Linked DNA regions of Homo sapiens: region 2 is linked to region 1. A link means that fine-mapping ties the variant in region 1 to the expression of a gene that starts in the linked region. Tissue or cell type: whole blood. Region 1 holds a variant in brackets; the other region holds the start of a gene. All regions are shown on one strand. Distances are from middle to middle.

The links. PIP is the estimated chance that this variant, and not a neighbour inherited with it, causes the effect.
Region 2: it holds the start of SSPN, and the variant in region 1 is fine-mapped to the expression of SSPN in whole blood (INTERVAL, PIP 0.96).

What each region holds. Positions count from the first base shown.
Region 1 is chr12:26,135,697-26,138,552 of GRCh38, reverse strand. It overlaps a transcript of SSPN not described here. Among named protein-coding and RNA genes, the nearest start is that of BHLHE41, 12 kb to the right of the region's middle. The variant G/C (reference allele first, on the strand shown) is at 1,428.
Region 2 is chr12:26,194,255-26,196,932 of GRCh38, reverse strand. It overlaps SSPN (sarcospan), which reads right to left and starts at 1,360. Exons shown (of 3, transcript NM_005086.5): 1 at 982-1,360. The coding sequence starts at 1,260.

The DNA of each region.
Region 1 (2,856 bases):
TTTAACTGCTCAATAACCACATGCGGCTAGCACTACCACATTGGACAGGCCAGATTATAGAATATTTCTTTCACTGCAAAAAGTTCTGTTGGATAGCCCCTATCTAGAAAATGCCTTGCACATAGAAGATACTCTATTATTGTTAACTCAGTGATCAAATTTTACCCTATTTTGGAAAGGTGAAAAGTTTAACAAAATCAAAAATTTGTTTTTCAGGAGAAAATAAACCACCAAAATGATTGCATATTTGGATATCTTTAAATACAGTTGGCCCTCTGTATCCACAGGTTCTACATCCACAGATTCAACCAATCGTGGATCAAAAATATGTGAAACGAAATAAATAAATAACAATACAAATTTAAAAATTCAGTGTTTATATAGTGTTTATGTCATATTAGGTATTATAAGTAATCTAGAGATGATTTCAAATATACGGGAGGATGTGCATAGGTTATAAGCAAATGCTATGCTTTATTTACATGGGACTTGAACATCCACAGATTTTAGTATCATGGGGTCGGGGGAGGTCCTGGAACCAGTCCCCTGTGGATACTGAGGGACAACTGTTAATATTCAACATAGTAGGCCAGACGCGGTGACTCATGCCTATAATCCCAGCACTTTGGGAGGCTGAGGTGGGTAGGTCACTTGAGGACAGGAGTTCGAGACCAGCCTGGCCAACAGGGTGAAACCCGTCTCTACTAAAATACAAAAAAATTAGCCGGGCGTGGTGGTGGGGCCCCTGTAATCCCAGCTACTCGGGAGGCTGAGGTAGGAGAATCGCTTGAAAAGAGGAGGTGGCAGTTGCAATGAGCCAAGATTGCACCACTGTACTCCAGCCTAGGCAACAGAGCAAGACTCCATCTCAAAAAAAAAAAAAAAAAAAAAAAAAATATATATATATATATATATACATACACACACACACACATATATATGTATATGTGTATATATATATTCAAGGTAGTGACATATTTATTGGACATCTTCTATGTGTCAGAAATACTAGTCACCTCACAACAGGCATATAAGATCCTCATTCTATAAGTGCGGACACTGAGGTTTAGGGAAGTTCCAAACTTTGCCTCTCCCAACTAGGCAAACAGGTATTCGTAAAGCTTAACCTTATGCTCACAGTTTCAGACCCCAAAGCCATGCTCTTTCTGGCATAATGAAGCCTCGCTTCTCTAAACAAAAATCATGGAGGTAAATAGAAATGCTGAATTTTTGTCTGGGTTTTTGGGAGGCCATTGTGCACACAGGCAGTCAAGATTATGGGCAATGACTCTGCAGCCGCAGTGTTTTCTTCAAATCCTGGCTCTGCCATTTACTATTTGTGTGACATGGACAAATTACTTAACCTGTGCCGCAGTTTTTTCCTTTTCAGAATGGCATTATCACACTATCTATATCAAAGGGTTGTT[G/C]AGCAATTAAATGAGTTAAGACTTGCAAAACAGTAAAAGAGAGCATGGCACAGAGTAACTGCCATAAAAGTCTTGCTTTTATTAGTAGAATGGCTGAAATAAAGAAGAAATAAGTCAAGATGCCTCCCATGGCCAGCTAACAAAGTTTGAAACTTAATTCACCCATGTCATTCATTTAAGACCTGACCAAGGCTTTAACTTACGACAAAGCATGGACTAACAGGATTTCCCCCAATTTGCACATAAATGTGGAACTATGTGACAGCTCTCAGAGGAGCTGTCTAAATAGCATGATTTAAAAGGATAAGGTTGTGACCAGTACTGCCTATTTCCAAGTAGCACACGAAGTACCATGGACTCTTAACTATATCTCATTAATGGAAAATCACGTTGACAGGTCTGGCCTTCTGTTTTATTGTTATTCACCCATTACTAGAGGAAAGAGTAATGGAAAGCAATAGGTTTACCTCTTGAACTTAAAATGTTACTCAATTCATCAATTATTTTCATACACCCATATTTTCTATGACACTCATAATTTTAACCAAGCAGCTCAAATGGGAAAAATAATAGCTATCATTTATTGCTCACCTACTAGGATGGGGGTGTTCTCTGCGCATTGTCATGGACACGCAATAAACAGAGGGAGGTACTGCTATTTCTCTGTAGTTACATTTGAGATAACCGACTCATTCATAATTTGTCCAAGGTCACACAGCTACTCAGGGGAAAACAGCATTTAAACTCAGGTCCTCTTGATCTTAAAGCCTAAGTCCATACCAACTCTGCCACCATACACAGCAACATGAAACACACTTATCCCTTGGTATCTGCAGGGTATTGGTACCAGGACCTCCGGTGGATACCAAAATCCTTGGGTGCTCAAGTCCCCTGATATAAAATGGCATAGTCTTTTACACATAGCCTACACACGTCATCCCATACACTTTAAAACATCTCTAGATTACTTATGACACCTAATACAATGTAAGTGCTATATAAATAAACTGTATTGTTTAGAGAATAATGACAAGGGGAAAATGTCTGTACATGTTCAGTACAGACACAATTTATTTTCAAATATTTATATCCTAAGGTTGGTTGAATCCATGGATGGGAGCCCACAGATATGGAGGGTGGACTGTAATATGAAACAAGGACAGAAATATGAGATATGTCTATTTCATTACCTTTGGTATGTCTGAAGCAGAATTTCTAAAACAGAATAAAAAGCCTAGGAAAAATCAGTAGTGCCATTATCCAATGACAAAATTGACTCAGAATTGTATCTCAGCTGGATCACCACTGGCAATGCAGGAATGTTGAGCAGGTGTGAACTCAGACCCAGGCCTGCTGATGGCTTGTGGTCACCGGGGCTATATTTGGCAAACGTAGTTTGATTTTGCAAGAAGCCCTTGACCAGAAAAAT
Region 2 (2,678 bases), 58 kb before region 1:
ACATAATATTAAAGTTACAAACCAAATGTGGTGGCAGTGTGGTTCAATGAGGAAAACGCAGATATAGTCTAGCATAAAGAGGAATCAGCATGGCTGAATGCTTTACCCACTCATGACCCTGGGTGAGTCTGGCCTGGGTTCCCTCATTTGAGAAGTGAGAATGATTAAAACGATCCCATCAGGACGATGTGGGGATTAGAAATAATATGTGTCAGGCCTCTAGCAGGGCGAGCACACAGTAGGTATTCAGTAAGTGGCACCCGTTTTACATTAAAGAATTCATTTAATCAAGCCAAGTATGCTACATGTTTCAACACTCACAACAGCTGAGTACTGTTCAACTTAGAACAGTACATCCATCGGTGGAGTCCCAAATATACTTCTGCCATGGCCAGCGCCCTGGGTTTATCCCACTTTAGACTCCAGTGGATTAAGGCTGTGCTTGCTGTATTCGCATTTCCTGCCTTAGCCCATCATTTCAGGAAACTTACTAATGGAGCCTCAGTTTAAAACATAAAATGAATGCTACTCAATGTGGCAACTCCAAGTACAGGCTTTCTCCTCTCCTGCTTTCACTAGATGAACTTAATTCACTTTTTGCCACTTGTTTAAGGACAGGGGTGGGGTCTGGGTAACAGGATAAGGAAAAAGCCCGAATGAATCCGCTGTTGTTATTGAGGCTGTTCAGTCTGACCAAAATAAGCAGCTTTTGAAATGAACTCCCCAGCTCCAGAGCGTCAGAGTCAGGCCCCGTGGAGGCGCTGGGAGCCGCGAGCAGGAGAGGGGCAGGAGCCCTATCGCGTCCAGCCCTGCCCCGCCCGGGAAAACCCAGTGCCCCACGCATCAGTCACCGAGCAGAGCGCGAGTTAGAAGAGTGAACCCGGGGAAGGGCACATGCAGCTGGGTTAGTCTCAACTCGACCATGCGACTTCGCATTCCTGTTTGGCAAACGCGCTTAGGCAAAACAGACTTGATGCTTACAATGATCCCAGCCCAAAATGGAGTGTCCCTGACTAGCAGGGAGGAGCTGATGCTCGCCATGAGGAAGCCCACCACGGTCACGGCGATGCCCAGGGCCAGCTGCAGCAGGGCGAGCAGCAGCGGGAACCGGCAGCCGCAGCAGGTCCGGGGCTCCTCCTCCCCGCACTCCTTGGGGGCCCCCGTGCCCTTCTTCGGCTCCATGTCGTCGGGCCCAGCGGCGTCCGCGGCCGGCGGGCCCCCCTGCCTCTGCTGGCCGCGTGGCTGCTTGTTCTTGCCCATGGCGCTGCGAGGCTGGGTGGGTGGGTGGGTGCGTGTGCGGCGCCCTGGGCCCTGGAGCGCGGCGCACGGCTGGCTCGGCCTGCCCTGGTATTCGAATTATGGAGGCTGAACAAATATGGAAAACATTTGGAGCCGACTCACCGAGCCTCCAAAGGCCACGGGGAGCCCGCAGCAGAGGGGGGATTCGAGGGGGGTCGCCAACTGCCAACGCGCCGGGACGCAGCGCCTGCCGGGCCCCGGGCAGGATTTGCAGGTCGCCCGCGGAAACCGGCGCGGGTCCCTTGGCCGCCTGAACCTCTGCACTTCAGACAGGCTGCGAGTGCGCGCGTGTGCGAGTGCGGGGCGTCTGTTTTCCTCACTCAAAACTCCAGGATTGTTTTGGTTTTGCTTTCTGTGAAGTGCAATGCAAGGTGATGAATGTTGAAATCGTTTGAGCTTAATTAATACACAGTTTAATCCAAAATAGGCACTGCTGGGCTCTAAGCTGCGAAGTCATTTCCAGAAGTTAAGTCGTTGTTACTTTCCTACAGAGGCACAGGCTCTTTTCTTCCTACTTTCTGTAATCCAGCTGACAAATGAATAAAGGCATTTTTCGCATTTAGGTGTTTTTGAATCTTTCTAAAGATATTGGACTAATTGTGAACTCTCTTTCACATATGTTATTAATTATTATTATTATTTTCCAAACAGGGGCTCACTGTGTTGCCCAGGCTGGAGTGCATTGTCACCATCCTAGCTCACTGCAGCCTCAGACTCCTGGACTCAACAGCTTCTCTCTCCTCAGTCTCCAAGTGGCTGGGACTACAGGCAATCACCACCACATCTGGCTAATTTTTTAAAATTTTTTTCATAGAGATGGGATCTCATTATGTTGTCCAAACTGGTCTTGAACTCCTGGCTTCAAGGGATCCTGCTGCTTCAGCTTCCCAAAGTGCTGGAATTACAGGCGTGAGCCACCATGCACCCGGCCTCTCACGTGTATTTGTTTTTAAAAGCTCTGTTGGCTCACGCCTGTAATCCCAACACTTTGGGAGGCCGAGGTGGGCGGATCACAAGGTCAGGAGTTCAAGACTAGCCTGGCCAACATGGTGAAACCCCGTCTCCACTAAAACTACAAAAATTAGACAGGCGTGGTGGCACGCACCTGTAGTCTCAGCTACTCGGGAGGCTGAGGCAGGAGAATCGCTTGAACCTGGGAGGCAGAGGTTGTAGTGAGCCGTGATCATGGCACTGCACTCCAGCCTGGGCGACAGAGCAAGACTCCTAGTTAGTCTTCACTCATCTCCACAACAGTGCTTAGGGGGATTGGATTGACCATCTTAGAGATAGACGCTTTTACTCAGTCAATATTTAAGAGTTATTTTTAAAGCACCTACAATGTGCTAGGATATAAAGATGTTCAAAATAGACTTGGTCCT